4 linked regions of the Homo sapiens genome follow. The protein of the gene in region 1 interacts with the protein of each later gene in a biochemical or structural test. Each region holds a gene or a part of one and is shown in the gene's direction. Other genes may lie near its edges.

Region 1 (7,022 bases):
GTGATGAGCGCGACTGCCCAGGTGGGCGGGGGCAGGTGTGTGGTGGGTGGTGGCCTGCGGTGAGCAGGGCCCTCACACCTGCCTCGCCCCCCAGGTGTGAAACGCCCCAGATGCCCTCTGAATTACTTCGCCTGCCCTAGTGGGCGCTGCATCCCCATGAGCTGGACGTGTGACAAAGAGGATGACTGTGAACATGGCGAGGACGAGACCCACTGCAGTGAGTGACCACTGCACCCACTCAGTGCTCCAAGAGCCTGCTGGGCCCCACTTCTTAGTCCCCCCCAGCAAATGCCCCCTTGGAAAAGGGCATCCAGAGCCTTCAACCCCCTGCCCCACACCCCAACTCTTGAGGTCAGACTCAGAGACTCTGCCTCTAGCTGCTGCTGAGCCCCCCCACAGAGGGGTGCTGTGGGCATCTCTCCTGTCCTTCCCATGGCATCAGCCTCCCCAGGTGGGTGACCCCCACCCTTCCCCATCTAACTGTGGCTTCTGACTGCCCCAGACAAGTTCTGCTCAGAGGCCCAGTTTGAGTGCCAGAACCATCGCTGCATCTCCAAGCAGTGGCTGTGTGACGGCAGCGATGACTGTGGGGATGGCTCAGACGAGGCTGCTCACTGTGGTAAGGAAGCTGGGATTGGGCCGGGGGAGGTGCCCCAGGGAGGGACAGACCCCACCCAACTCCACCCCACACACAGACACCCCTGCAGACGACGGCGAACCATCACCTCCACTGCTAGACCTGATCTACCCGCTCCTAAGTCTCTCAGTGGCCCTCTCTCCCCCTACAGAAGGCAAGACGTGCGGCCCCTCCTCCTTCTCCTGCCCTGGCACCCACGTGTGCGTCCCCGAGCGCTGGCTCTGTGACGGTGACAAAGACTGTGCTGATGGTGCAGACGAGAGCATCGCAGCTGGTTGCTGTGAGTGGCGGGGCCACGTGGAGCGGGTGGACAGCAAATGGCCACAGTCTCACTTTGCAGATGGGGAAGCCGGGGTGCAGGAGAGGAAATGCCTCAGCGGGGTCCACTGGGGGCGGAGCCATAGCTGTAGCCCAGGTGTCCAGACTCCTCATCCAGTGCCCTGCCCACTCTACCAGGAGAACCACAGGAGGTTAGAGTGAGGGACGGTCGGCCGCTGGCCAGGCAGGGCTGAAGGGCTGTGTCCACCTCTGTCCACAGTGTACAACAGCACTTGTGACGACCGTGAGTTCATGTGCCAGAACCGCCAGTGCATCCCCAAGCACTTCGTGTGTGACCACGACCGTGACTGTGCAGATGGCTCTGATGAGTCCCCCGAGTGTGGTGAGCCTTCGGCGGTGGTGGGAGGAGGCCCTGCCCTCTGCCGGGCCAGGGCATCAGCCTCACAGGTCCATTCCTCCCCCAGAGTACCCGACCTGCGGCCCCAGTGAGTTCCGCTGTGCCAATGGGCGCTGTCTGAGCTCCCGCCAGTGGGAGTGTGATGGCGAGAATGACTGCCACGACCAGAGTGACGAGGCTCCCAAGAACCCACACTGCACCAGCCAAGGTGGGCCCCAGACCTGGCTCCCCTCTGCCCCCTCCCCAGACTGCCTGAGACCCCGCTGACCTGCCGCCTCCGCCCCTCCGCAGAGCACAAGTGCAATGCCTCGTCACAGTTCCTGTGCAGCAGTGGGCGCTGTGTGGCTGAGGCACTGCTCTGCAACGGCCAGGATGACTGTGGCGACAGCTCGGACGAGCGTGGCTGCCACATCAATGAGTGTCTCAGCCGCAAGCTCAGTGGCTGCAGCCAGGACTGTGAGGACCTCAAGATCGGCTTCAAGGTATGCCCAGCCCTGGGGAGGAGCTTCCACACCCCAGACGTGCCAGGAACGCCTTTCTCCACTGCCTTATTCATTCATTCATCCCCTAGACAGTGGGGATACAGCAGTGAATGAGACAGAAATCTGCTTGGTTGGGGTCTGCCTCTATCTGGCAGGTAGAGAGCCAGCAGATTTGCTGACAGATGAGATATGCAGTGTGAGAGGAAGAGAGGAGTGAGGCATCAAGTAGGCAAGAGATACACAGGTCTGGAGTTCAAGGAGAGGCCCAGGCTGGAGAGGGAAGTCTGGGAGTTATCACCATAGAGATGCTATTTGAATCTGTGAGCCTGGATATGATTCCCAAGGGAGCAGTGTAGGTGGAGAAGAGAGGAGTCCAAAGTCTGAGCCCCGAGCTGAGCAACAGCCAGGAGCAGGGAAGTGAGGGGACCAGCAGAAGAGCCTGAGAAGGAGCAGCTGCTGAGGCAGGAGAACAGCCACGAGAAGAAAGCATTTCCATGGGGAGGGCACACGCAGCTCTGTCAAATGACACTCGGGGGCACACAGAAGGAGGCCTGCACTGTGGGCCAGCTGGGTGGGCTCAGTACCCATATGCTGCTGCCCCTAGTGAGGCCGGGTAGAGGGAATTGGAGTCTCTGAGCCAGGTCTCCAGGGTGGGAGGCCCAGACCCTGCCACATGCCCAGCCCAAGGCTCCCTGTGCCTGCAGTGCCGCTGTCGCCCTGGCTTCCGGCTGAAGGACGACGGCCGGACGTGTGCTGATGTGGACGAGTGCAGCACCACCTTCCCCTGCAGCCAGCGCTGCATCAACACTCATGGCAGCTATAAGTGTCTGTGTGTGGAGGGCTATGCACCCCGCGGCGGCGACCCCCACAGCTGCAAGGCTGTGACTGGTGAGATGCGCGCTTGGAGGGCATGAGGTGACCCAGGCTGTGTGGGACTGCCCGGGTGGCAGAGCTCCAGACAGGCAGGAGACCAGGGCCGCTAGAATGTGCCAGGAGCTGAGGCAAGATCCTCTGTCTGCAGACGAGGAACCGTTTCTGATCTTCGCCAACCGGTACTACCTGCGCAAGCTCAACCTGGACGGGTCCAACTACACGTTACTTAAGCAGGTACCAAACCCAGGCCCTCCTCCCCGCTGCCCATCTCCCAGACCCAGCACAGCCTCCCTTGCAAGTCTCCCCGCTTAGGTCCAACCATCCCTCCCCCAGATGCAAATGTGGCCCCTGTTGCCACAACCGACTTCTGCTGTCCTTCACTCCCCAAATCCAGGGCCTGAACAACGCCGTTGCCTTGGATTTTGACTACCGAGAGCAGATGATCTACTGGACAGATGTGACCACCCAGGGCAGCATGATCCGAAGGATGCACCTTAACGGGAGCAATGTGCAGGTGAGGCGGGCGGCCCTCGGCGACCAACACTGGCCCGCCTCAGATGACTGTTTTCAGATCGTCTCTCCTTCCCGCCCCACCAACCCAAATTGCTTCCTTCTCACTCCACTAGTCACTATATGACTGCTTGTTCTAGCTGCTCACTCTCCTCTGGGCCCAGACAGCAAGGACTGGGAGATTCCTCTTGCCCTTCCCCTCGCTGCCAGCCTCATGTCTCCTTAATCATCAGGAAGTTCCCTGTGAGGTCTGGCCAAGCACTGTGAGGCTTGGGGCGTGGTCCCATTCACCTAGAGCCCCCTCTCCTAGAGCCTCTGCTGACACCTACACAGTGTCAGGCCCAGGACTGGGCATTTTACTTCCATGGTTCTCCCACCAGAGCTGTCAGAGGGAGCTCTACCCCATTTTACACGAGGGGAGGCTGAGCCTCACAGAGGCTTGCAGGTCCTCCCCCAGGTCACCCAGAGCTCTCCCTCCCCTGCCCCTTCCTGCAGGTCCTACACCGTACAGGCCTCAGCAACCCCGATGGGCTGGCTGTGGACTGGGTGGGTGGCAACCTGTACTGGTGCGACAAAGGCCGGGACACCATCGAGGTGTCCAAGCTCAATGGGGCCTATCGGACGGTGCTGGTCAGCTCTGGCCTCCGTGAGCCCAGGGCTCTGGTGGTGGATGTGCAGAATGGGTATGTGGCTGAGGAGGGTTGGGGGAGCCCCTGAAAGCAGCATCCAAGCCCAGCCTCCCTGCAGGCCACTGGTGCGATGGGTTACGGGATCTCCCAGGGCTCACTGCCTACCCATCGCCAGGTACCTGTACTGGACAGACTGGGGTGACCATTCACTGATCGGCCGCATCGGCATGGATGGGTCCAGCCGCAGCGTCATCGTGGACACCAAGATCACATGGCCCAATGGCCTGACGCTGGACTATGTCACTGAGCGCATCTACTGGGCCGACGCCCGCGAGGACTACATTGAATTTGCCAGCCTGGATGGCTCCAATCGCCACGTTGGTCAGTGTGCCAGTGAGGCTGTCCAGGCACAGCAGACTCAGTGGGGATGGAGGTCTGAAGCGACAGGGGATCAAGTTTTGGGGGCAAGAGTGGACATAAAAAGCGGAGGATATGGCCTGAGGACACCACTCACTGGGGTGTGGGGTTCAGAGCACCCCGGGGGCTTCCCCAGCCTGGCCACCACCCAGCTCCCTTGGGAAGGAAGAGGAGAGGCCCTTCCCTTGTATACACAGTTCTGGAGGACTGGCCCCAAGGAGGGTGGGGGTGGGAGGCCTGCGATTGAGAACTGCAGTGCTCCCCACTTCCCGAGGGGAGCCATACACTGGCAGGGCAGGAACTTGCCATGAGGCAGTCTAGGTTTGAACTCCAGCTCTGACACTTGTTAGCTGTGAGACCATGGGGGGTCTGTACCATGAACCATCTGTAACTGGGGCTGACACCCACCTCTCAGGGTGGTGGTAGGGCTTGAGGAGGTGGAGTGGGCCGGCACCCTGTCCGAGCTCCGGCTGACTGGCACTGTGCCTGCCCCTTGGCCCTGCAGTGCTGAGCCAGGACATCCCGCACATCTTTGCACTGACCCTGTTTGAGGACTACGTCTACTGGACCGACTGGGAAACAAAGTCCATTAACCGAGCCCACAAGACCACGGGCACCAACAAAACGCTCCTCATCAGCACGCTGCACCGGCCCATGGACCTGCATGTCTTCCATGCCCTGCGCCAGCCAGACGGTGAGCAGGCAAGGGGTGGGAGCAGGCGAACGGTGAGCCAGGCACCGGGGTCCCTGGGAGTTCCTGCTCATCCCTTCTCTAGCATTGACCAAGCCCTCCTGGCCAGACACTGGGAGACTCCAGGAGGGTCTAGACAGGGGATGGTCTGGCTCCCGGGAGCTTCAGCCCGGCCTGGATCCAGCCCTGGAGTCTGGCAGCAGCAAGTCCCTGAGGCCAGTCAAGTGGGGGTCTGGGTGCCCAGCCCCCAGAAGGAAGGCAGGCCGGCCCCTGGGAGGGAAGCACAGAGGAGGTGGGGAGCTGGCCTTCAGGCCTGGCCTGATCCTGGGACCTTAGAATCCTCTCCTATCTCCAGCTTCAGCTCCCTCCTAAAAGAGGCAGGGTTCAGACCCACCCGCCTCTGTCCAGGATAGAGTGAGTGAGGCAGCCTTTGGTAGGCCAGAAAATGTCACCATATTTCACGACGTTTTCTCTGGCAGTGCCCAATCACCCCTGCAAGGTCAACAATGGTGGCTGCAGCAACCTGTGCCTGCTGTCCCCCGGGGGAGGGCACAAATGTGCCTGCCCCACCAACTTCTACCTGGGCAGCGATGGGCGCACCTGTGTGTCCAACTGCACGGCTAGCCAGGTGAGGCTGTCCCCCAGACCCCATCACCAGTGCCCGCTCCCCAACCCCCAAATCCTCCTTGGACCCCAACACCTGCTCTGTCCTAATGTCCTCATGCATCTGGTTTTCCCACACTAACACCCCCACATTTCTTGCCTACCTCTTGTCTCCCCACAGCAATACTTTTACCCCCGTCACCTCACACAGACACCTCCACACCCTAACCTTGACCCTCCTTGCCATGCTTCAGTGCTGCCTTCCCCACCCTATCCCACGCAGCCCCATACCTGGCCTTTCCGAACTCACCATAGCCCAACCTGCCCCATAACACCCTGACCCCTGCCTCAACTTCTTTGAAACATCCAAGCCCCTCAAAAGAAAGACTTCTGAGTCCCCCAGACCCCCACCAACCCCTCTTGCCCCCACCTGCCCTCCAGTTTGTATGCAAGAACGACAAGTGCATCCCCTTCTGGTGGAAGTGTGACACCGAGGACGACTGCGGGGACCACTCAGACGAGCCCCCGGACTGCCGTGAGTGCCTGCTGGGGGTGACAGGAGGGCCCCCAGCTGTGTCGGAGGCCTGACTCCTGAGGCTTTGAATGGCCACTGGAGAGGCTGGGGCTGTGGTGCCCTGCAAGTGGACCTGGCCGTGTCCACCCCAGCCGCTCTGACTCTGAGCCTCCCTCTCTGGCAGCTGAGTTCAAGTGCCGGCCCGGACAGTTCCAGTGCTCCACAGGTATCTGCACAAACCCTGCCTTCATCTGCGATGGCGACAATGACTGCCAGGACAACAGTGACGAGGCCAACTGTGGTAAGGCGCTGCCCGCCCACCCTCCCTCCTTCCCCAGCATCTTCCCTGCCCCAGGATTTGGGGCTTTCAAGTGCAGGGAAGTTGCAGCCCACGGCAGCTTGCTCTCCAGGCTGGATTCCTATGGCTCAAGCCTGTGTCCTCCCTGCTGAGGGATGGGCACCCTCTCCCTGCCCCTGAGTCCTCCCTTCGCCACGAATCACCTCCTCCTCCCTCCACAGACATCCACGTCTGCTTGCCCAGTCAGTTCAAATGCACCAACACCAACCGCTGTATTCCCGGCATCTTCCGCTGCAATGGGCAGGACAACTGCGGAGATGGGGAGGATGAGAGGGACTGCCGTGAGTGTCAGAGGTGGTGGTGGGCCGGTGGTGGGAGATGACACGGAAGCAGGGCAGGCAGAATCTCCCCACAGCTTTGAGAGGCTCTCAAATAACTTTAGTAGATGGGCAACACAAATTATATTGGGTGTAACTTGCTTTGCTCATAAAAATCATCATGCATGATATAGAGACATAGAGATCCAGAAAACAAAAAGCACCAAAACTGGGGATAAACTGTTCCTTCCTCCGAAGAAGTTGCTGGCAGGACCAAGGCCAGGGCTTGGAAGAGAGAGAAGACAGTGATGGTGAACTGGAGTGGCAGGTGTAAGGGAGGGCCCTCATTCTCTTGCCCACCCCACAGCCGAGGTG
Region 2 (7,022 bases), on another chromosome or scaffold:
ATTTCAATGGGTTCACTGATCTTTCCAAATGAAAAGGCTTCTTACGAAAATTATATCCAAACTGTCTTTTCTCTTAGTTTAATAAACCTATCAGTAAGTTTTTACTGAGTACTGCTATTACATTTTTCTCTGTTAAGCATTATGGGGGCTCAGACATGATCCATTCCCTCAAAGAACTTACCTTTCAGCTGAAGACTGACTAGAATGAGCAAATACGGTTAACAATTAACAAGTGAGTAGGCCAGCTCGGCCAACATGGTGAAACCCTGTCTCTACTAAAAATACAAAAATTAGCCGGGCATGGTGGTGGGCGCCTGTAATCCCAGCTACCTCCTGCTGAGGCAGGAGAATTGCTTGAACCCAGGAGGTGGAGATTGCAGTGAGCCGAGATTGCACCATTGCACTCCAGCCTGGGCGACAGAGCAAGACTCTGTCTTGGGAAAAAAACAAAACAAAACAAGTGAGAAGGGAATCAAGTACTACGTAAGATGTAATGTGGAATTTTAGGGAAGGAAGGCAGTGTATGCTGGAGTAATTAGAGAAAGGGGCATGCATGATTTGATGCTTGAACTGGATCATGAAGGATAAGCAAGATTTTGGCAGCAAGTGAGAGGGAGAGAGGAGTTTGTCAGAGGAATGGAACAAGTCAGGAGGCAGTAATGTGTACGGCACTCCAAGGACTCTGTCCTGATCGGAGCAGAAGTGATGAAGCATTGAGTAGTTTGAGAAAGTTAGCTAAGAAGGGTGAGGGCAGATGTTGGAGAGAGTTGAGTATCAGAGAGAAGACATTAGATTTGAGCAGATAGAACAAAAATGCCATTGCCAGTTTTTGTGTAAGAGAATAGTATTAGGGTGGTTACCCAGGAAGTGGTCATCAGAGTTGAATGGAGCAGAAAGAGTGTCTGATACAGCATCGGGACGTTGTGGTCACAAAATGAGGTGGTGAGGGCTGAGCCAAGATGGTGGCAGTGGGATGGATAAAAAGGGATGGCCAGGACAAATATTTTAAAGGAAAAATTAACAGGACATCTTTACTGACTGGATTGGAAGGCTATGCAGGAAATATATTGTCAAACTTGATTCCAGGATTTCTATCCTATGCCTGGGTTGCCCAAAATATCAGGGAACCATTGTTAGAAAAGGTAGGAGATACCACTGTTCCAACAAAAAGTATTGAGTTTGGTGTTGCACCCACTTAACTTCAAGGCCTTACAAGTGAGTAGACAGTTAGTTAGAATTGCAGAAGTGCCACTCAGAGAGCAGGGCTTGCAATGTGGGGTTGGACTTTGTCACCATTGTGTTAATTCCTAATTCTATGCAGATGCTCAGCTTGAGGAATACCCATGTTTGGGCTTCAGAATGAAAGCCAAGTAATATTTACTCAGATGCCAATTTTCCCTCTGAAATATTTGCTCATGGAACTGAGAGAACAATATATAAAGCATTAATTATTTTTCTCATAAAGTTATTAATAAAAAGATAAGATCAGTGAAAGGCAGAGTAAACTAGAAGCCAAGTATAGAAAATGGTATCATTCAAAGACTCATTACTGTAGTGGTGAAAACAAAACAATTTTCCAACAGCTTAAGATGCCTCAGTATTTTGGACCATTTTTAAGTAGTTAGTGTGGGCACTTAGTAAATATGTATTAAACTATAGTTCATTAATTCTTTTTTTTTTTTTTTTGAGATGGAGTTTCACTCTGGTCACCCAGGCTGCATTTTTGCTTTCTTAGTGATATATAAAATGTCGAGTTTCACAATGATGGTATCTTAGATTTGATTAAATATGGTATTAAAAAATAGCTGATCACAGAAAGTCTCTACCAGTGTGATGTAGATGGCTAAAGTATTCCACATTTGCAAACTTTTATTGACCTAAATAAGAGGTGCCCCTTGGGTTGTTTTTATTTGGACTGGGAATATTAGGAGAAAGCTTTTTCATTCAGTGTGTAAGTACAATCTACCAGAAATAGAAACCCCCATGGACGATCTATTTCTTTGATGGTACAGGACTCAGAACATTCACAAAGATTTAGTTGTTAGCGGAATAGACATCTGTATTTTATTCAAACCAATTTTCCCTTCCTAATCTGAGAACATTGTGCAATCTAAGCAGTTCTAAGCATGTTTGCTATTCGTGCAAAGTGAGAGTAAATCTAAAAGAAATTTTTTTGTGTGTTTAGGGATGGTAATAAAGTCTCTTAGTGGTTGAAAATGTTATTTCTTACAAAAGTGGAGAACATTTGCTTTTCAATACCAGAGTTTTCAGCCATTTCTGCATTCTGACCTATTGACTGGAGGTAGGTTGCCTTTGAATTCAGTAAAACTTCATGGGCAGAAACACAGTTCCTTTTCCTACTTATTTGGATATCATGATGGCCATTGCATGTATGTGTCTTTTTGTAAGTCCATGCCTCAGAACTGAGAAGTAGGAATAAAATTAGGGTCAGGGCTGGGGATGCTACTCTTTGCTGCTGAGAAACACAATGCTTCAGGTAAGTGATTCTGAAGTCCTTCACCACCTGACGGTAACCTTGGGTTGGTCCATAGGTATGTTTTCATTTTGCTTGTTCATCCATTTTAATTGGCTTCCTAGAGCATGCTTGTAGATGTAGAGCCAAATTTAGAGTAGAGCAACCCTCTGGCAAACAGGAAGAGATTAATTTTGTGGTATGCTTTTAAGGGACTTCCCAGGAAACTTCAAAAGCAGAAAAAGAAGCACTAGCTGCCTATTCCAAAATGTGTAAAACACCACTCAGCTTTTTAAAAGTAGGATAAACTCAGAGCGCGCGCACACGCGCGCGCGCACACACACACACACACACAGAGAGAACATCTCTAGTAAAAAGAAAAGTTGAGCTTTCTTAGCTAGATGTGTGTATTAGCCAGAAAAAGCCAAGGAGTGAAGGGTTTTAGAGAACTGGAGGAGATAAAGTGGAGTCTGCATATGGGAGGCATTTGAAATGGACTTAAATGTCTTTTTAATGCTGACTTTTTCAGTTTTCTCCTTACCAGACACATTGTTTTCATGACATTAGCCCCAGGCATAGACACATCATTAAAATGAACATGTCAAAAAATGATTTCTGTTTAGAAATAAGCAAAACATTTTCAGTTGTGACCACCCAGGTGTAGAATAAAGAACAGTGGAATTGGGAGCCCTGAGTTCTAACATAAACTTTCTTCATGACATAAGGCAAGTCTTCTATGGCCTTTGGTTTCCTTACCTGTAAAACAGGATGGCTCAATGAAATTATCTTTCTTCTTTGCTATAATAGAGTATCTCTGTGGGAAGAGGAAAAAAAAAGTCAATTTAAAGGCTCCTTATAGTTCCCCAACTGCTGTTTTATTGTGCTATTCATGCCTAGACATCACATAGCTAGAAAGGCCCATCAGACCCCTCAGGCCACTGCTGTTCCTGTCACACATTCCTGCAAAGGACCATGTTGCTAACTTGAAAAAAATTACTATTAATTACACTTGCAGTTGTTGCTTAGTAACATTTATGATTTTGTGTTTCTCGTGACAGCATGAGCAGAGATCATTAAAAATTAAACTTACAAAGCTGCTAAAGTGGGAAGAAGGAGAACTTGAAGCCACAATTTTTGCACTTGCTTAGAAGCCATCTAATCTCAGGTTTATATGCTAGATCTTGGGGGAAACACTGCATGTCTCTGGTTTATATTAAACCACATACAGCACACTACTGACACTGATTTGTGTCTGGTGCAGCTGGAGTTTATCACCAAGACATAAAAAAACCTTGACCCTGCAGAATGGCCTGGAATTACAATCAGATGGGCCACATGGCATCCCGGTGAAAGAAAGCCCTAACCAGTTTTCTGTCTTGTTTCTGCTTTCTCCCTACAGTTCCACCAGGTGAGAAGAGTGATGACCATCCTTTTCCTTACTATGGTTATTTCATACTTTGGTTGCATGAAGGCTGCCCCCATGAAAGAAGCAAACATCCGAGGACAAGGTGGCTTGGCCTACCCAGGTGTGCGGACCCATGGGACTCTGGAGAGCGTGAATGGGCCCAAGGCAGGTTCAAGAGGCTTGACATCATTGGCTGACACTTTCGAACACGTGATAGAAGAGCTGTTGGATGAGGACCAGAAAGTTCGGCCCAATGAAGAAAACAATAAGGACGCAGACTTGTACACGTCCAGGGTGATGCTCAGTAGTCAAGTGCCTTTGGAGCCTCCTCTTCTCTTTCTGCTGGAGGAATACAAAAATTACCTAGATGCTGCAAACATGTCCATGAGGGTCCGGCGCCACTCTGACCCTGCCCGCCGAGGGGAGCTGAGCGTGTGTGACAGTATTAGTGAGTGGGTAACGGCGGCAGACAAAAAGACTGCAGTGGACATGTCGGGCGGGACGGTCACAGTCCTTGAAAAGGTCCCTGTATCAAAAGGCCAACTGAAGCAATACTTCTACGAGACCAAGTGCAATCCCATGGGTTACACAAAAGAAGGCTGCAGGGGCATAGACAAAAGGCATTGGAACTCCCAGTGCCGAACTACCCAGTCGTACGTGCGGGCCCTTACCATGGATAGCAAAAAGAGAATTGGCTGGCGATTCATAAGGATAGACACTTCTTGTGTATGTACATTGACCATTAAAAGGGGAAGATAGTGGATTTATGTTGTATAGATTAGATTATATTGAGACAAAAATTATCTATTTGTATATATACATAACAGGGTAAATTATTCAGTTAAGAAAAAAATAATTTTATGAACTGCATGTATAAATGAAGTTTATACAGTACAGTGGTTCTACAATCTATTTATTGGACATGTCCATGACCAGAAGGGAAACAGTCATTTGCGCACAACTTAAAAAGTCTGCATTACATTCCTTGATAATGTTGTGGTTTGTTGCCGTTGCCAAGAACTGAAAACATAAAAAGTTAAAAAAAATAATAAATTGCATGCTGCTTTAATTGTGAATTGATAATAAACTGTCCTCTTTCAGAAAACAGAAAAAAAACACACACACACACAACAAAAATTTGAACCAAAACATTCCGTTTACATTTTAGACAGTAAGTATCTTCGTTCTTGTTAGTACTATATCTGTTTTACTGCTTTTAACTTCTGATAGCGTTGGAATTAAAACAATGTCAAGGTGCTGTTGTCATTGCTTTACTGGCTTAGGGGATGGGGGATGGGGGGTATATTTTTGTTTGTTTTGTGTTTTTTTTTCGTTTGTTTGTTTTGTTTTTTAGTTCCCACAGGGAGTAGAGATGGGGAAAGAATTCCTACAATATATATTCTGGCTGATAAAAGATACATTTGTATGTTGTGAAGATGTTTGCAATATCGATCAGATGACTAGAAAGTGAATAAAAATTAAGGCAACTGAACAAAAAAATGCTCACACTCCACATCCCGTGATGCACCTCCCAGGCCCCGCTCATTCTTTGGGCGTTGGTCAGAGTAAGCTGCTTTTGACGGAAGGACCTATGTTTGCTCAGAACACATTCTTTCCCCCCCTCCCCCTCTGGTCTCCTCTTTGTTTTGTTTTAAGGAAGAAAAATCAGTTGCGCGTTCTGAAATATTTTACCACTGCTGTGAACAAGTGAACACATTGTGTCACATCATGACACTCGTATAAGCATGGAGAACAGTGATTTTTTTTTAGAACAGAAAACAACAAAAAATAACCCCAAAATGAAGATTATTTTTTATGAGGAGTGAACATTTGGGTAAATCATGGCTAAGCTTAAAAAAAACTCATGGTGAGGCTTAACAATGTCTTGTAAGCAAAAGGTAGAGCCCTGTATCAACCCAGAAACACCTAGATCAGAACAGGAATCCACATTGCCAGTGACATGAGACTGAACAGCCAAATGGAGGCTATGTGGAGTTGGCATTGCATTTACCGGCAGTGCGGGAGGAATTTCTGAGTGGCCATCCCAAGGTCTAGGTGGAGGTGGGGCATGGTATTTGAGACATTCCAAAACGAAGGCCTCTGAAGGACCCTTCAGAGGTGGCTCTGGAATGACATGTGTCAAGCTGCTTGGACCTCGTGCTTTAAGTGCCTACATTATCTAACTGTGCTCAAGAGGTTCTCGACTGGAGGACCACACTCAAGCCGACTTATGCCCACCATCCCACCTCTGGATAATTTTGCATAAAATTGGATTAGCCTGGAGCAGGTTGGGAGCCAAATGTGGCATTTGTGATCATGAGATTGATGCAATGAGATAGAAGATGTTTGCTACCTGAACACTTATTGCTTTGAAACTAGACTTGAGGAAACCAGGGTTTATCTTTTGAGAACTTTTGGTAAGGGAAAAGGGAACAGGAAAAGAAACCCCAAACTCAGGCCGAATGATCAAGGGGACCCATAGGAAATCTTGTCCAGAGACAAGACTTCGGGAAGGTGTCTGGACATTCAGAACACCAAGACTTGAAGGTGCCTTGCTCAATGGAAGAGGCCAGGACAGAGCTGACAAAATTTTGCTCCCCAGTGAAGGCCACAGCAACCTTCTGCCCATCCTGTCTGTTCATGGAGAGGGTCCCTGCCTCACCTCTGCCATTTTGGGTTAGGAGAAGTCAAGTTGGGAGCCTGAAATAGTGGTTCTTGGAAAAATGGATCCCCAGTGAAAACTAGAGCTCTAAGCCCATTCAGCCCATTTCACACCTGAAAATGTTAGTGATCACCACTTGGACCAGCATCCTTAAGTATCAGAAAGCCCCAAGCAATTGCTGCATCTTAGTAGGGTGAGGGATAAGCAAAAGAGGATGTTCACCATAACCCAGGAATGAAGATACCATCAGCAAAGAATTTCAATTTGTTCAGTCTTTCATTTAGAGCTAGTCTTTCACAGTACCATCTGAATACCTCTTTGAAAGAAGGAAGACTTTACGTAGTGTAGATTTGTTTTGTGTTGTTTGAAAATATTATCTTTGTAATTATTTTTAATATGTAAGGAATGCTTGGAATATCTGCTGTATGTCAACTTTATGCAGCTTCCTTTTGAGGGACAAATTTAAAACAAACAACCCCCCA
Region 3 (7,022 bases), on another chromosome or scaffold:
AGGAGGGGGCCCCAGCTGGGCCCACCTATTGTTCGCCAGGGCCCCCACCCGATGTCTCCCACAACCCCCACCCTATGCCCGACTGGCCGCCCCTGGCCACACACAATGGGGCAACTTCCAAATTTAGCCTTTCTACCATTTCTTTCCAAGCCTTTACACCCCCACCCTCAGACGGCCCCTCCACACCCCTGGTGGGGGTCGGGATCTTGGAGATGAGGTTTCAATAGCAGGCCTGTTTCAAGGCAACCATGTGGCTATTTTTTCCTAATCAACTTAACCTTTCCACAAAGCGCATCTTTTCCCCATCTCCTCCCCACCAGGGACATTCCAGAGATGGCAGGGAGAAAGGAAAGGAGCCAGAGGGACAGATAGGCTCGTTGACGTAGGGGCTGTCAGGCTGGACGGAAGCGGACTAGTCATCAGACTCCCTGCAGTACCCGGGACGGACAGGCGGCAGGCGCCTTTGTCTTGGATGGGGCCAGTGGGTCGGTGCCAGAACTGGAGCCATGGGGTGCTGTGTGGAGGTGGCAGGAGCGTGTTCCCAATGCCCCTTAGTTTATTTGTGGCTCCTCACCCATGAGAGAGACAGAAGGGTCTGTCCACGCCTTAACATCCAGCTCAGAGGCCTCCCTCAGCCCTCACTTCCCAGCAGCCAACCTCTGGCCATGGGCTCTGGAAAGGACCGATGTCTCCAAGGAGGGCTGATGGGACTGAGATGGTGCCCAGGCTAGAAAAGGGAGCTGTCATTTGTGACCAGAGGAATCAACAGACGGCTGGGGGCAGAGGTGGGGCAACAGTTTAGAGAAGGGGAGGGAGACAGACACAGATACAGATACGGTGTGAGGGCCCCGGAGCTAGAGAGACCAGGCCCTAGAAGGGTGTGTGGCAGGGACTCCCCACCCCCAGCAGGCCCAACTCCCACCCCTCTTCTCCTCTTCTCTGTCTTCAGCTCCCACCCCCATCCCTCTCCCTCCCTCCCTCCCTCCGTGGCTCCCGCCTGCCCAGCGCGGCCATTGTCCGGGGCTCCAGAGGGGCTGTGTTCAGGGCATGCGGTCCCCCTGGGGCTTCTGGGAATTTCTCCATTCAGCACTTCCTATGGGAACGCTGGGTGGAGGGGCACTGGAAACTGGCCTTCAGTGCCCTAGGTCCCGGCCCCGCCCTGGAGGCCGAGGAGGGTTCACTTACAGTAGCAAAGGGGAAGGGTTATTTTTAACTCCACTGACATGGGTTCTGGCCAAAAATGTTGGCTAAAGAGCCAGGGATGCAGTCAGGATCCTGGGCCTGCAGCTGTCCTGGGGGCTGCTTGGAGGGTCCCTGCTCAGGGCCAGGACCCGTGCATTTATGGGGGCTGGAAGGAGGGACTGTTCTCTGGAGTGGGGGAGAGGCAAACCTCCCGCCTGCCCAGACACCCCGGCGGAGGGAGCCCCTGCCCAAGGTGGGGCCGCCTGGTGTCTGACTGTGACTTCTCCTGCAGAGGAAGATGGGGCCGAGTTGGACCTGAACATGACCCGCTCCCACTCTGGAGGCGAGCTGGAGAGCTTGGCTCGTGGAAGAAGGAGCCTGGGTAAGACTGAGACACCCAACAAGGGTCCTTCAAATTAGCATGGGGGCCAGGGAAAGAGAACGGGGGCGGGCAGCCAGTCGGAGGGCCCCGAGGGTCCTCTTACAACTCCCGTTCCCCCCACATTCAGGACTGAGCGAACTGAGAGAGTAAAACCATCCTTAAATGCCTGTGTTCAGTCATCACAGCCCCTCGCCCCCACACTCTCTGGTTTCTAAATATAGTGCTGCAAAGCTCATTCGTTCCTTATTTCAATCCTGGAGGTAGATATTATTAACCCCATTTCACAGAGTTGGAAACTGGGGCCCAGAGAGGGTAAAGAACTAGGCGAGGTCACACTGCTAGGGAGCGGTAGGGCTGAGATCCCAACCTGCTCCCCTCACTTGAACCCAGCGTGGTCCCTGATGGGCTATGGGTATCTCCTGTGGCAAAGGGCCGCGGCCTAGGCTGGTAGACCTCGAGCAAAGCCTGGAACTTCCTCCTGCTCCCTTGCAGAGACCTAAAGGAGACCGTAGATCATTAGGTCCCAGAGAAACCCTCCCAGGTGAGGCAAATGTCCACTCAAACCCCTCCTCCTCTTTGACACCTGGAGTCCCCAAAACACTGCAGTTAGAGGCTGGGGGAACGATGAATAAGAGTCAGGTGGCCTGGGCCGGGCATGGTGGCTCACGCCTGTAATCCTAGCACTTTGGGAGGCTGAGGCAGGCAGATCACGAGGTCAAGAGATGGAGATCATCCTGACCGACATGGTGAAACCCTGTCTCTATTAAAAATACAAAAATTAGCTGGGCGTGGTGGCAGGTTCCTGTAGTCCATGCTACTTGGGAGGCTGAGGCAGGAGAATTGCTTGAACCAGGGAGGCGGAGGTTGCAGTTAGCCGAGACCACGCCACTGCACTCCAGCCTGGCGACAGAGCAAGACTCCGTCTCAAAAAAAAAGAAAAAAGTCAGGTGGCCTGAGTTCCACCCCCAATCTATGAATGTGGGCGGACGGGATATTCAGCTCTCAGAGCCTCCTGTCCTCTGTACATGGATAGCATCGGTAACCTCAGTGCTTGCTGTAGGCAAGGCTTACTCACTTTACACCTTAGATCCACATGGGAGGGAGGTGCTGTTATTATCCCATTTCATAGAGGAGGAAGCTGAGGCTTTGAAAGCAGCAGTGATGCAGGAATCCAAGGCACCGTGAGACAGCAGTGCACGCGTGGTTTCGAGCTAATATGGTACCTGCATAAAAACCACATGTTGGGCAAGCCCATAAATGTGTAAAATCATAAAGAAGAATAAAATAGTCATGTGCCAGCAGAGGGAAGCGGACATTTACTAAGCATTTACAACATGCCCCACACTCTGAATTTTCTCACTTGAAACTACAGTGGTTCTTGGGTGTAGATCTCATGGTCCCATTTTCAGATGGGGAAACACAGGCTTAGAGTGGCTCAGCCATCTGCCCAAGTCCCATGGCTAATGACAGCCAGGACTTGAAACCTGAACCCTGGGGTTGAAGGGCGTGAGAAAGAGCAGTCCCGGAGGCACCCGCTGAGCTCCCCTGCCAAGTGGGGGGACTCTGGACAGGCCTACGCTCCTGACCCAGGTTTCGTCTCCTCCCAGGTTCCCTGACCATTGCTGAGCCGGCCATGATCGCCGAGTGCAAGACGCGCACCGAGGTGTTCGAGATCTCCCGGCGCCTCATAGACCGCACCAACGCCAACTTCCTGGTGTGGCCGCCCTGTGTGGAGGTGCAGCGCTGCTCCGGCTGCTGCAACAACCGCAACGTGCAGTGCCGCCCCACCCAGGTGCAGCTGCGACCTGTCCAGGTGCGTAGGCTCCGCGGCCCCCCGAGGCTGGTCCCGGTGGTGGGTGGAGACCACCCTTCTGGGGCTCATACCTGACCAGGCTTCCTTGACTGGGCAGAGTGGTGTGTCGAAGGACATTCCTGATTTGTTCCTGGGCTCTGTCCAGAGAGGCCCACTCTTGGGAAGCTCTTCCTAGGCAGGTGGACTGAGGCCGACCATGAGTCCTCTGAGGTGGCTCAGGCCACTGTAGCCAAAAGCCACAGACAGACCCCCCGGGCTGGGCGAGGTGTGGAGCCAACGTGAAGTAGGGATGTCACCTCCTTTACAAGGACAAAATCGCAAAACGTCCCTTGAAGAGCCGTATCCGCAAACATTTATCTGACACTCAGAATGTTTTGGGGAGCTACTCAGGTTCCCCCAAAGCTCTCCCTATTCAGGGCTGTCTTGAGAAAGGCTCAGATGGGTGGCCCTGCATCTTTGACACCTGCTTGTCTCTCTTTGACAAGCTGTGTCTTTAATAAAGAGAGTGCAGAGAGGCCCACCAGGTGATAGACACTGCGGAGCTGGGGCAGGTCCCCTGACAACAGTGGAATGCTGATCCTGCTTTTCTTCGGAGGGACGGGGGATACATACACTGGACTCAGGGAAAATTCTAGAGTAGAGGCTGTCTCAGGGAGCACCCTGGTCTCACCCTAGTCGGGGCAGAGTCAGAGAAGCTGCTGCTTCTGCTTCTTGTGGAAAGATTCCTGCACGCCCCAGGCCAGCCTCGCCCACAGGCTGGGCAGTGCGCATTTCTCTAGCTCAGCACCGGCCCTTGCCCGATGCTCTGCCTGCTTAGCCGCACTTCCTTCTCCTGCCACCAGCCCGTGGCCTCTCCTCCTGCCCACCTTCCCTCCCTGGCTTGGGCCCCACGCCTGAGACTACGAATGTCACTCCACCCCACTGCCCACTCTCGTGGTATCTCCTGTCCTCGATGCTTCCAGCTCTATGGATGGACACCTGACATCTGACCTCCCCGTTCCCACCTCCCTCCTAGATGAAGCCTCCCCCCACTTCCTTCCAGACAACCATCTCCCGCCTCTGCCGCAGCCCTGACCTTGGCTGGCGCTCCGGGAATGAGGATACCGCAGGCCCCAGCTCAACCCGGAAATGCCTTTCTGGCTGTCCCTCTCTGGGGGCACTGAGGGGGGCCCCAGGTCGGGAGGGCTTGTTTTGATGGAAAAGCTACGAGAAGGGCAGAGGTCAAGGTCCTGCTATTGTTTGGGCCAAAGCTTTTGCCCCACAGCCTGCTCTCCGGGCTTTCGAGGAAAGATTGCTGCAGGGGACACCGGGGTGGGAAGCGCAAGCCATTCGGGCTTCCCGGGCTCCTGGCTGTGTGGTCTCTACAGAGGCATTTTGTGGCTCTGTCCTCCAGGTGAGAAAGATCGAGATTGTGCGGAAGAAGCCAATCTTTAAGAAGGCCACGGTGACGCTGGAAGACCACCTGGCATGCAAGTGTGAGACAGTGGCAGCTGCACGGCCTGTGACCCGAAGCCCGGGGGGTTCCCAGGAGCAGCGAGGTAACCACCTTTCCAGGCTCAGCCCTCAGCCCCCTTCCCCTGCAGCAGCTGGGGGCAGGGGCCGGTCTTAAAAATGGAAATGGGATCAGGCCCGCCCCCGGTTAAATTCACGGGAGGCTTTCTTTTCATCTTGCTGAGACACAAGCCAGGTTCCTCCCTGGCCTGAGAGCCCTACATGAGGATTAGCCCCTGGCTGGCTCTCTGGTCTCTGCCAACCAGTACCCTTCACCTGTGCCACCCCCGCCGGGCAGGCCTCTTTCAGTAACTAATGGAGTTTCTGCCTCAAGGCTTTAGCACACACTGCTGTGGCTGAAGAACACTTCTCCCAGCTCTCCACAAGCCTAGCTCCTTCTCTTCATTAGAGTCTCAGCTCAGAAGTCACCTCCTCCTAGAAGTCTGCCCTGACCACCCCATCCAGAGCAGCGCCATTTCCAGTCTTGCTACCATAGCCCCCTGCTTTGTTGGATGTGGGGATGGGATGGTGGAAGGAATCTGGGCCTGGATGAGAGAAAGCTCCGCGCACATCAACTTCCGATAGTGAGCAGCTTGTCCTGGGGATGAGAAATCAAACGAATTTCTCGTATCCTTGAGCGGGGGAACCAGGACCAGTGGGGAGAAGCCACTGGAGAGAGATTTCAGCTCCATATGCAGAACAGCTAGCTGGTGATCAGTCAGGGGTGCAAGGTGGAATTGGCAGCATTGTGAGGCATCTCTACAAAAAATACAAAAATTAGCCAGGCATAGCGGCACACGCCTGTAGTCTCAGCTACTTAGGAGGCTGAGGTGGGAGGATCGCTTGAGGCTGGGATGTCGAGGCTACAGTGAGCCGTGATGGCACCACTGCACTCCAGCCTGGGCAACAGAGCAAGACCCTGCCTCAAAAAAAAAATGATTAATACGATTAGATGAGCGTTTAAAAAAATCACGTAAGTGATAGTTCTTTTTCAGTAACTTTCTATTGTTAGGGACAGGACAATCTTTTCATTCTCATTTCTTATTAACAAGACCCTGAAGACGGAGCCATTTCTTGGCATCTGTGTCTTATTCCCAGAGCTGAGCTGAGTCGCTGGATGCCATGGAAAGGCTGATCATATGACAGCTTCAAACTGACATGTTGTAAATTATTGAGTTAATATGGAGGGTGATTTCTCTATTAAGGGAAAATTATATATATCTATATATATATATATTTTTTTTGAGGCAGTCTCACCCTGTCACGCAGTCTGGAGTACAGTGGCACAATCTTGGCTCACTGCAACCTCTACCTCCTGGGTTCAAGCAATTCTCCCGCCTTAGCCTCCCGAGTAGCTGGAATTACAGACACATGCCACTACACCCGGCTAATTTTTGTATTTTTAGTAGAAACGGGGTTTCACCATGTTGGCCAGGCTGGTCTTGAACTCCTGACCTCAAGTGATCCACCTGCCTCGGCCTCCCAAAGTGCTGGGATTACAGGCGTGAGCCACCACGCCCAGCCTCTTTCTTTTTTAAGAGACAGGGTCTCTCTCCATCACCCAGGCTGGAGTGCAATGGCATGATCATAGCTCACTGCAGCCTTGAACTCCTTCCTGGGCTCAAGCGAGCCTCCCTCCTCAGCCTCCTGAGTAGCTGGGATTACAGGCATGTGCCACCACGTCCAGCTAATATTTTAAGTTTTTGTAGAGATGAGGTCTTGATTCGTTGCTCAGGCTGGTCTCTAACTCCTGGGTTCAAGTGATCCTCCCACCTCAGCCTCCCAAGGTGCTGGGATTACAGGCATTGAGCCACCACGCCTGGCCTTCTTTATGTTTAGAGTGAGTTACTTCATGTATTTGTTTGACGTAATTTTCTAAACCAGTTTCTTGGGAGGCGCATTATACCAGTGAAACGTAGATGATGTAAAGTCCCATCATTTTAGTTCCGGTATTTTGGTTGAGTATGACGGTGTTTCTGTCACCTGTCCATGGGCCTGGCTAAGGCTTGGTAGTGTGGCTCTCTGTGATAATGTGGTCAGTGTCAGACCTCCTGGGCTCAGATCTGCGTGTTGTCACTTGAGCTGTGTGGTGACCTTGTGCTTGCCTGGGCTTGGTATAGCCCAGTGTCCTGCTGATGGCCCAGGCTCTGGGGA
Region 4 (7,727 bases), on another chromosome or scaffold:
AAATCAATAAGAAAAAGAAAAAATATATGAAACAATAGAGAAAAGAGAAAAATGTACAGAATATATAAATAGCCACCTCACAAAAGAAAATATAAACGGTTATTAACTTTATGAAAACTTATTCAGTTTTATTAACAGTGAAAGTAATAAAAATTAAAGCGATTGAGCTGCTAATTTTTCACTAAGATTATTTGAAAATTTAAGTGTTTGGAGAAAAAAAATTAAGGGCCAAGATGGAATAGTTTACATGATGTCATTTAGGTAAACGAAAAATGCATATGAAAATAAATATTTTGAAAGAATACTTACAAAAAAGTAGTAGTATGGGCCGGGCGCAGTGTCTCACGCCTGTAAGCCCAGCACTTTGGGAGGCCGAGGCGGGCGGATGACGAGGTCAGGAGATCAAGACCATTCTGGCTACGGTGAAACCCCGTCTCTACTAAAAATAAAAAATAAAATAAAATAAAAAAATTAGCCGGGAGTGGTGGCGCGGCGCCTGTAGTTCCAGCTACTCAGGAGGCTGAGGCAGGAAAATGGCGTGAACCCGGGAGGCGGAGCTTGCCGTGAGCCGAGATCGCGCCACTGCACTCCAGCCTGGGCGACAGAGGGAGACTCCGTCTCAAAAAAAAAAAAAAAAAAAAAAAAAAAAGGAGTAGTATGTACGTTATACTTCCACATGAAAAAAATGGAAAGAAAATTGTTAAGTGTCTGTGGGTGCTGGGTAATGCCTTTCCTCTACTCCTGGTTTCCATGCAAAAATATTTTACTGGGTCTTTACTTACTTGCCCTTGGAGAGATGTTATGACATTTGGTAGATAAACTTAGGAATAAACTTGGGAAGAATTGCTGGGCATGCCAGGCTCAACTACCTTTCTCTCTCTTTCATTCTTTGGAATAGAACTCAAAAAACAATTTAAATCCTTTTTCAAAGGCACTGTCTCCTTTCAGGTTAGAAGGAGGCCAGGAACTACGTTGACTGAGGCTGCTGTTTCAGTTCTTTGCTTTTGGATCTACCAATTCAAATCCGTTATCTGTCAATCATAGAGTAATATTTTGCTCTCATTTTTTTGGTCAATTTATTCCCCACCCAGGCATAAAGAAGGGATACTATTTATCCGGGTCTCTCAGAGGCCTCAACAAACCTTGGAGCATATAGAGAAAATGTGAGCAATAGGTACTTTTGGTGATGGGAATACAGGTGATATTTATTTCCCTTTTGCAGTTGCCCTCCTATTTTTTTTTCTTTTTTTGCAATGGTCATGTTTCATGTTCTTAATCAAGAAGATCAAAATAAAGCGATTCTTTCAGAATGACAGATAAAATGATAGAGGTTTGAAGGTAAATGTAACACAGTAACTTTGGAACCCAGAGCCCCTAGGAACTCATAGGATATTTGGCCACTGTTACACATGACAAACAGAAACATGACCCCCTTTCAAATCACATGACTGAAATTTGAATTTCAGTCTTGGTTTTCATTACAGTTTTTAAAAAGTTGTCAAATACTTTAAATGTTGGTTTTGCAGAAATATAGGGCTAAACAACCAGCATATTTTTTGTGTGCTTTTGCAATAATCAGAAATAAAATTGGTTTTCTTAAGGTAAGTAACAGGTCGTTTTTTTGTCTTAGCCAAAGTTCCCTTAGTTAGGGTAAGAGAAACTTAATTCTGGTTTGAGCAAGAAAATTAATTTAAAAATACTGGAGGCCAGGCGTGGTGGCTCACACCTGTAATCCCAGCACTTTGGCAGGCCGAGGCGGGTGGATCACGAGGTCAGGAGATTGAGACCATCCTGGCTAGCAGAGTGAAATCTTGTCTCTACTAAAAATACAAAAAAAAAAAAAAAAAAAAAAAAAAATAGCCGGGCATGGTGGCGGCCGCCTGTAGTCCCAGCTACTCGGGCGGCTGAGGAAGGAGAACGGTGTGAACACGGAGGCGGAGCTTGCAGTGAGCCAAGATCGCACCACTGCACTCCAGCCTGGGCGACAAAGCAAGACTCCGCCTCAAAAAAAAAAAATAAATAAATAAATAAAAATAAAAATTACTGGAAAGCTGCTGAGTTTCTATCAGGGTCTATATGAACCTATGATGAATGTGAAGAACTTTCAAATGGAAATCTGAGGTATTTGCAGTAGGTAAAATTAGGCGTATTTGTCATCGTAGTGCCCTGCTAGGCTTCTGCAACCCTTTTCTTTGGCATCTCCCTTCTTCACTTCCTGGGGCATGCTATAAATTTGTTTTAAAATCTTGTTCCATTTGGTTCTATTGTTTTTAAAAACTTGGTTCTGACACTCTTGAGATTTTTATACCTCTAAGCCATTTCACAAAGAAGATCATATCAAAAGTCAGGTTATAAAAATTACAAAGCAATAGCAAGTTTAAAGACTTTAAACAGTGGGAGAAAATATAAAAGTGAGTAATCTTTAGCACTGTATGTAACGATTGGAAAAAGACAGTTATGAGGACTCATCTATCTTCATTTATCCATTCATGATGGATGTGCTTTGTAGCCATATTTTTTTTTCCCTCTTTAGGATCTTCCAAGTCTTATGGATAGGAAAGACAGATCTCTAAAGAGGCTATGATATGCCTTTAGGAAACTGAGGATGAGGCCGGAGTAGTAAATAACTCTTACTTAGAAGGAGTATATAGGGTCTCATCCCTGAGAACATGGGAGTTAGTTATGTAAATGTTCAGATGATTTTCAACATTGTATATGGTAAGGAAGAATTTTTTAAAAAGACCTTCTTACAGGTACTAGAGGCAAATGAATGAGAAATAAGTACATGCTATGGGATTTTCCATTATTTCACAGGATGGAAAGTTTGATCTCTGTAGCCTGATTTTGTTCTTTGGCCTTGAACTTGTTCAAGTTGAATTGTGTGTCCTGAACACTGATCTAGTTGTTCACAAACTAGGGTCAGCCAACTGTAGTGGTATGTTGATGTATTCTTGGGAATCGAGAGTTATTATAATCTTTTAATATTATGGCTAAAAAACCCAAAATATCTATGTGTAAATATATAATGTAAGCATGGATTCGTTCATCTCATCAACCTCCTTATTCCTAAATACTGGACTACCATTTGTTTTATTTTTATAATCACATTGATACCAAGTGATCATCTAAATGACATTATTTAATTTTTAATGATTGTTCATAAATTAATTGCTTAAGAGTTATTTACAGAAAAAAACTAGCATTTGTCCTGAGATTAATATTTTTAATATAATTATTTTTATGTGTGCTTGACTATTGTGATAAAGAGAAAAACAGTTAAAAGAGGACCCCAGCCAAGTTATTATGAGGACTGATTTCTGATATTAGCTTTAGTACCTCCAAACCATGAGATTTGGGGAAAGTCACTTAAGAGCCCTAGACTTCAGTTACCTTGTATTTAAAATAAGGGAGTTCAGCTGGAACTAGTTAATCTGTAAACATAGTTTCCATTTCAAAAATTGTGAAATGATGCCTTTTTAAATGGAAAAAGCATTAAGGAGAAGAAAACTGATTCAGTTACAGGGTCTTTGGGGGAAAATTTCTAGCACCACCCTCTCTCCTAATTACAGTAAAACATGGTGGGATATAAGAACCAAATATTTATTGAGTATTTTCTCTGCGCCTATCACAACTCTATTTTAACTCCTGTAAATGTGACTGTGACTCCGTGAGCTAGATTATAGAATTCCTGTTGACAGTTATAATTGGTAGGCACAGAAAGCGTAAAGATGGAGTTTGGAATGGAATCTGGCCTGTCTGACTCTAAGCCCTGGATCCACTGTAATACATTATAACTGCTAGCTTTGCAAAATGCCTTTTTCCTTTTCTCATCTATTTTCACACTCAAACTAAAATTTAGTAAACTAAATTCTGAGCAGCAGAAAAAATTTTAGTAAAGGTCCTCTCATCCTTGAAGAACTTCTTATATAAGGATACTCCTTCTTGCTCCCTTTCCCACGCAGAACTTTACCAAAGGTCAGTAAGAATGGGCTGTTGTGTTTTCTCTCAAATCCTATACAGAAGTCCTTAATTCCGAGGTAAACATCTGAATGGAACAAATGAGTATGATCTGGGGGTTAAGGCAATTTTCAAGTGTGTGTATGTGTGTGTCTGTTTTAAGGCATAACAAAGTCCAGAGATTAAGGCCGAGTTAAAAAACAAATGAGGACAAACCAATGAGGACAAACCAGTCCGCTGAGGTGCGGCCAGAGCAGCAGCAACTGTGGCTGCTTTCTTGATAAAGGCTGTGAAGACGGCACGTTTTACTCTTATTCGTGTATTTCTTTTGACACTTTACCCCTCTATGAAGCCTCAGAGGTGTTTTAAAATTGTGTTAGGAAACACACAGAGATAAGAAAAGGCAAATGGTCCTGATCTAGTGTCTCAGGGAAGAGGCTGGAAAGGAAACGCGGCGCGAGTGGGGTGGGAGAGGGGGCCTGTGGTTTTGCTTCTGTCCGGGCTGAAGACTGAGTAAGGTAGGGCCCCTCCTTCTGCGGATGGGTTTCTCTCTCATTCCACCCTCCACCCACCTCCGGTTCCGCGTGCACGCGCGAGATAGTCCAGTGGGCCCACAGATAACGACCATCAGAGATTAAAGAAGGAAAGTCAGCGAGCTTGAACACAGGCGTCCCGTGTGGAAATGTCCAAGGAGACCGCCAGAAGTGCGCAAGCCGGAGTCGGCTAGAGTTTCCTTCTCACCGAGAGGGGGAGCCCGGCGTTCCCGGCCGGGAGCGACCCGGAGTCCCCAGCCCCGCGTCCCAGCTGCCGCCAGCGCCAGTTTTGGATTCGGCGGATTAGGAAGAGGAGGGAGGGGGGAGAGAGCGCGAAGAGGGAGGGGACCGAAGCTGGAGGGTCCCGAGTCCAGCGCCGTGTTGGCGTAGAGAAACTTTCCCTCTCGGCCTCGGAGACGGCGCCCCGGCCGTGCCGGAGTGGAGATCGCCAGGCTCGGAGGAACCGGCAGCTCTCCACGCCCCTGCCCGAAGCCTGACCCGACTGCCTCTCTCAGTGAGGTACGGAGATTTATCTAGGCTCTTCCCTGGCTGCGAACCCAGGCTCCCTCCAGGTAGCGTGGAATCGCTTAGAAGCTGATATCCCGAGGGGCGGTGGGGGTGGACAGCTCCGGCCACCAGTGCCCGGGAAGGAGGGCGCGGGGCTGCGCGTAGCCGCTGGCCAGCAGGTTGTAAAAAATTAGGACAGCTAAATGCTCAGGGAGTCGTCCAGCACTAAAGGAGGCTAAGACCTGTTGACGCCTGCTATGGCAGCGCTTGAGAAATGACTGGGGGAGTCCAGCGAGGTCGGGGACGCAGCGGTCTCCGGGCTCCAGAAACCTCCTTAGCCTTTTGTGGTAACTTTGGTCCGGCGGCGGGGGGCCGGTGAGCAGGAACTGGAGGGAGGCGGTGGGGAAACCGTGGATCCGTCCGGCTGAGGGTGCGTGGATCAGACTGGGCTGAGCAGGCAAGTCATCGTCGGGTCACAGCGAGGCGACCCAGGAGCGAACTTCCAGGGCAGCCTCCCTTTTGTTGGCGCTGGGAGAGAATGTGGGCATGGGGGTGGGGAGGCGCGAAGCTCCGAGGCCGGGCCGCGGATACTTTAAAGCTCAGAGCTGGGAGGGCCCAAAGGAAGGGGCGGCGTCCACATGGTTACCCTTCTGCTGCGCGGGTCAAGTAGCTTCTTCTGGAGGGCGCAAGGCGCGGCGGGGGTGATGAGCCCTTGGGTTCTCGCTCCGACTGCTAAATTCGCTTGGCCGGGTCCACCTTCTCGTGGCCTCACTCGCCACACGGATCAGAATCCGGAGCAGGCAGTTCTCTCTATTCTGAGGCTCCTGCGGCTGCCGCGCTGACTTCCCTGTGTGCGGGAGGGAACTCTGGGCAGGCTGGTTTTCTTGGAATGTGTTTACGATGTTGAATGGGACTTGAACAGGAAGCTGGACGCTGCAGCTGGAACTAGCGTGCCAAGGTAGAGTAAGGAAGACTTAGCTGGTGTTGGGCTTGGCGGGTCCACTTGGTACGCTGGGCAAACTCCAAGTAAGTGAGGGCTGGCAGTCAAGGTACCCCTCCCTAGGTCCTAGTAGTGTTTCCCAACTGAGCTCGCCTTACTCATTTGCAATCAGACATTTTACATGCACTATTTCAATCTGCAAGTTTGACAAAGTGTAATGCAGTCAATTAGGAAGGATTTAATAAATTTATTTTGTGCCTGCTTTTAAAATACGTTACACCAACATTTGAGAATAAAAAGTTACGGAGAATGTTCAAGTCATGACTGATTTCTAGGACTAGCAGGAGACAATACTGATGATTTTGTGTCTGTATTACAAAATGGGTGATTAGGTGCTAAAGTAAGGGAGATTATTAGACAGAGTGAATGTGAGGAAGTGGAAAACTTTCAGAGGAATTGGAAATTCTTCAAATTTGCAAATTGCTCCCTTTCTCTGCCAGTCTTTCCCTTTTCCCCCCATATGAACAAGTAGCCTTGGCTGGAAAACCCACAAATTGGGAGAGTGCAGTCGCTGGTGACTACAGGCTTTGCTGGAAACAGCAGACAGGCTAAGGTACTGCCCCACTGCATAATTAAAGGTCTCCTTGAGCTGTCCAGGAGTGTTTTCCAAGTTTTTACGACTGACAAGGAAAAAAAGAGAGGAACCTGGCCGGCAGCCAAACTAGACTGAGCTCAGTAGCCAGGCATGAAAGAGACTGGGCAAGTTGCAGGGGCTAATTGGAAAGGGGCTGTCGGTTGCACTTGGGGTTTAAACAAGAGGTTTCTTTTGCAATGAGAATTTTTAGGTGGCTAAGATCAGTCTTCTTGGCAAAAAAATAAACTAAGCATAGAGTGCAGTTGGATATGACCGAGGAAATTACAAAAAGGGCTCCAGGAGCAAAGTCTGAACTTTCCTTATCAGTGTTGCAGTGGAATAGCTGGGGGCCTGATGCTGTTTGTGCTGATCATACTTTGCAAATGCCCACACTTTGTTGCTGTTTGTCTCCTTGGACGAGGTTTGCTGCAACTTCAATTCCTTGACTTCGGCCTTACTTTGTTTTCATAGCAGCAAGAATTGAAGACTTAAGGGTTTGAGCAGATGGTTTTCTACCTAAATTGAATAATTCAATTACGTATTCTCAGCTAGCATGGATTTGGGTCATGGAATTAAAGTAGAAACGTATCCGGCATGACTTCTTTGTGCTTATCAAAAGTGATCCTGATAAACAGATCTTGCTCTTTCATGTAAAGAAGTAAAAGGTGAGATGATCTCAGTATTTCACACATTTGCCCTTTACTGCTTCCTAATTCCAAACCAGCTAGGAACTCAAAGCCTTAACTGCAATTCAGACTCTTCTTTGTGTATTAAAGTTGTGTATGTTTCATCTCTCTTTTTTTTTTCTTCAGAGAGGTGGGTTGTAGGTTTACTATTGTGGGCTTAGGGGTTAAATGGTTAAAACAAACAAACAAACAAACAAACTAATGTGGTTTATATTTCCTCTGTATTTAAGAGTTTGAGATTGTGAATATTAGCCTGCTTTCTGAGACTCACTTTGTGAATCACCCTCAGCCAAATGTTTTCCCTGACTATGATTTCAGTTTTTCCACTTGCAAAGTAAAGAAACTTTCCTTTACATAATTACAAGATTATTGTGAGAATTAAAGAGATGAAATAATGTTAATAGGCTTTTCGACATAAAGGTCATAGGATTTCTGACTCAGCTGACTCAGTTGAGTTTATGGGGATAAAA

What was found.
Region 2: the proteins of LRP1 (region 1) and BDNF form a complex in vitro, tested with the Homo sapiens proteins (one study listed by BioGRID).
Region 3: the proteins of LRP1 (region 1) and PDGFB form a complex in vitro, tested with the Homo sapiens proteins (one study listed by BioGRID).
Region 4: the proteins of LRP1 (region 1) and GULP1 form a complex in vitro, tested with the Homo sapiens proteins (one study listed by BioGRID).

What each region holds. Positions count from the first base shown.
Region 1 is NC_000012.12:57,194,483-57,201,504, forward strand, and holds part of LRP1 (prolow-density lipoprotein receptor-related protein 1 preproprotein), read left to right. Parts: coding exon 1-21; exon of another isoform or gene 22-94; coding exon 95-217; intron 218-502; coding exon 503-619; intron 620-788; coding exon 789-917; intron 918-1,175; coding exon 1,176-1,298; intron 1,299-1,380; coding exon 1,381-1,521; intron 1,522-1,604; coding exon 1,605-1,795; intron 1,796-2,499; coding exon 2,500-2,683; intron 2,684-2,816; coding exon 2,817-2,902; intron 2,903-3,062; coding exon 3,063-3,182; intron 3,183-3,673; coding exon 3,674-3,861; intron 3,862-3,982; coding exon 3,983-4,188; intron 4,189-4,729; coding exon 4,730-4,918; intron 4,919-5,394; coding exon 5,395-5,543; intron 5,544-5,959; coding exon 5,960-6,053; intron 6,054-6,216; coding exon 6,217-6,333; intron 6,334-6,551; coding exon 6,552-6,671; intron 6,672-7,014; coding exon 7,015-7,022. UniProt on the Homo sapiens protein: Endocytic receptor involved in endocytosis and in phagocytosis of apoptotic cells. Required for early embryonic development. Involved in cellular lipid homeostasis.
Region 2 is NC_000011.10:27,655,436-27,662,457, reverse strand, and holds part of BDNF (neurotrophic factor BDNF precursor form isoform a preproprotein), read left to right. Parts: intron 1-2,185; exon of another isoform or gene 2,186-2,302; intron 2,303-2,799; exon of another isoform or gene 2,800-3,872; coding exon of another isoform or gene 3,873-3,893; coding exon 3,894-4,637; 3' UTR 4,638-7,022. UniProt on the Homo sapiens protein: Important signaling molecule that activates signaling cascades downstream of NTRK2. During development, promotes the survival and differentiation of selected neuronal populations of the peripheral and central nervous systems.
Region 3 is NC_000022.11:39,227,977-39,234,998, reverse strand, and holds part of PDGFB (platelet-derived growth factor subunit B isoform 1 preproprotein), read left to right. Parts: intron 1-1,474; coding exon 1,475-1,564; intron 1,565-3,171; coding exon 3,172-3,377; intron 3,378-4,770; coding exon 4,771-4,915; intron 4,916-7,022. UniProt on the Homo sapiens protein: Growth factor that plays an essential role in the regulation of embryonic development, cell proliferation, cell migration, survival and chemotaxis. Potent mitogen for cells of mesenchymal origin.
Region 4 is NC_000002.12:188,287,158-188,294,884, forward strand, and holds the start of GULP1 (PTB domain-containing engulfment adapter protein 1), read left to right. Parts: upstream 1-4,716; 5' UTR 4,717-5,009; exon of another isoform or gene 5,010-5,454; intron 5,455-5,670; exon of another isoform or gene 5,671-6,023; intron 6,024-7,042; exon of another isoform or gene 7,043-7,236; intron 7,237-7,727. UniProt on the Homo sapiens protein: May function as an adapter protein. Required for efficient phagocytosis of apoptotic cells. Modulates cellular glycosphingolipid and cholesterol transport. May play a role in the internalization and endosomal trafficking of various LRP1 ligands, such as PSAP.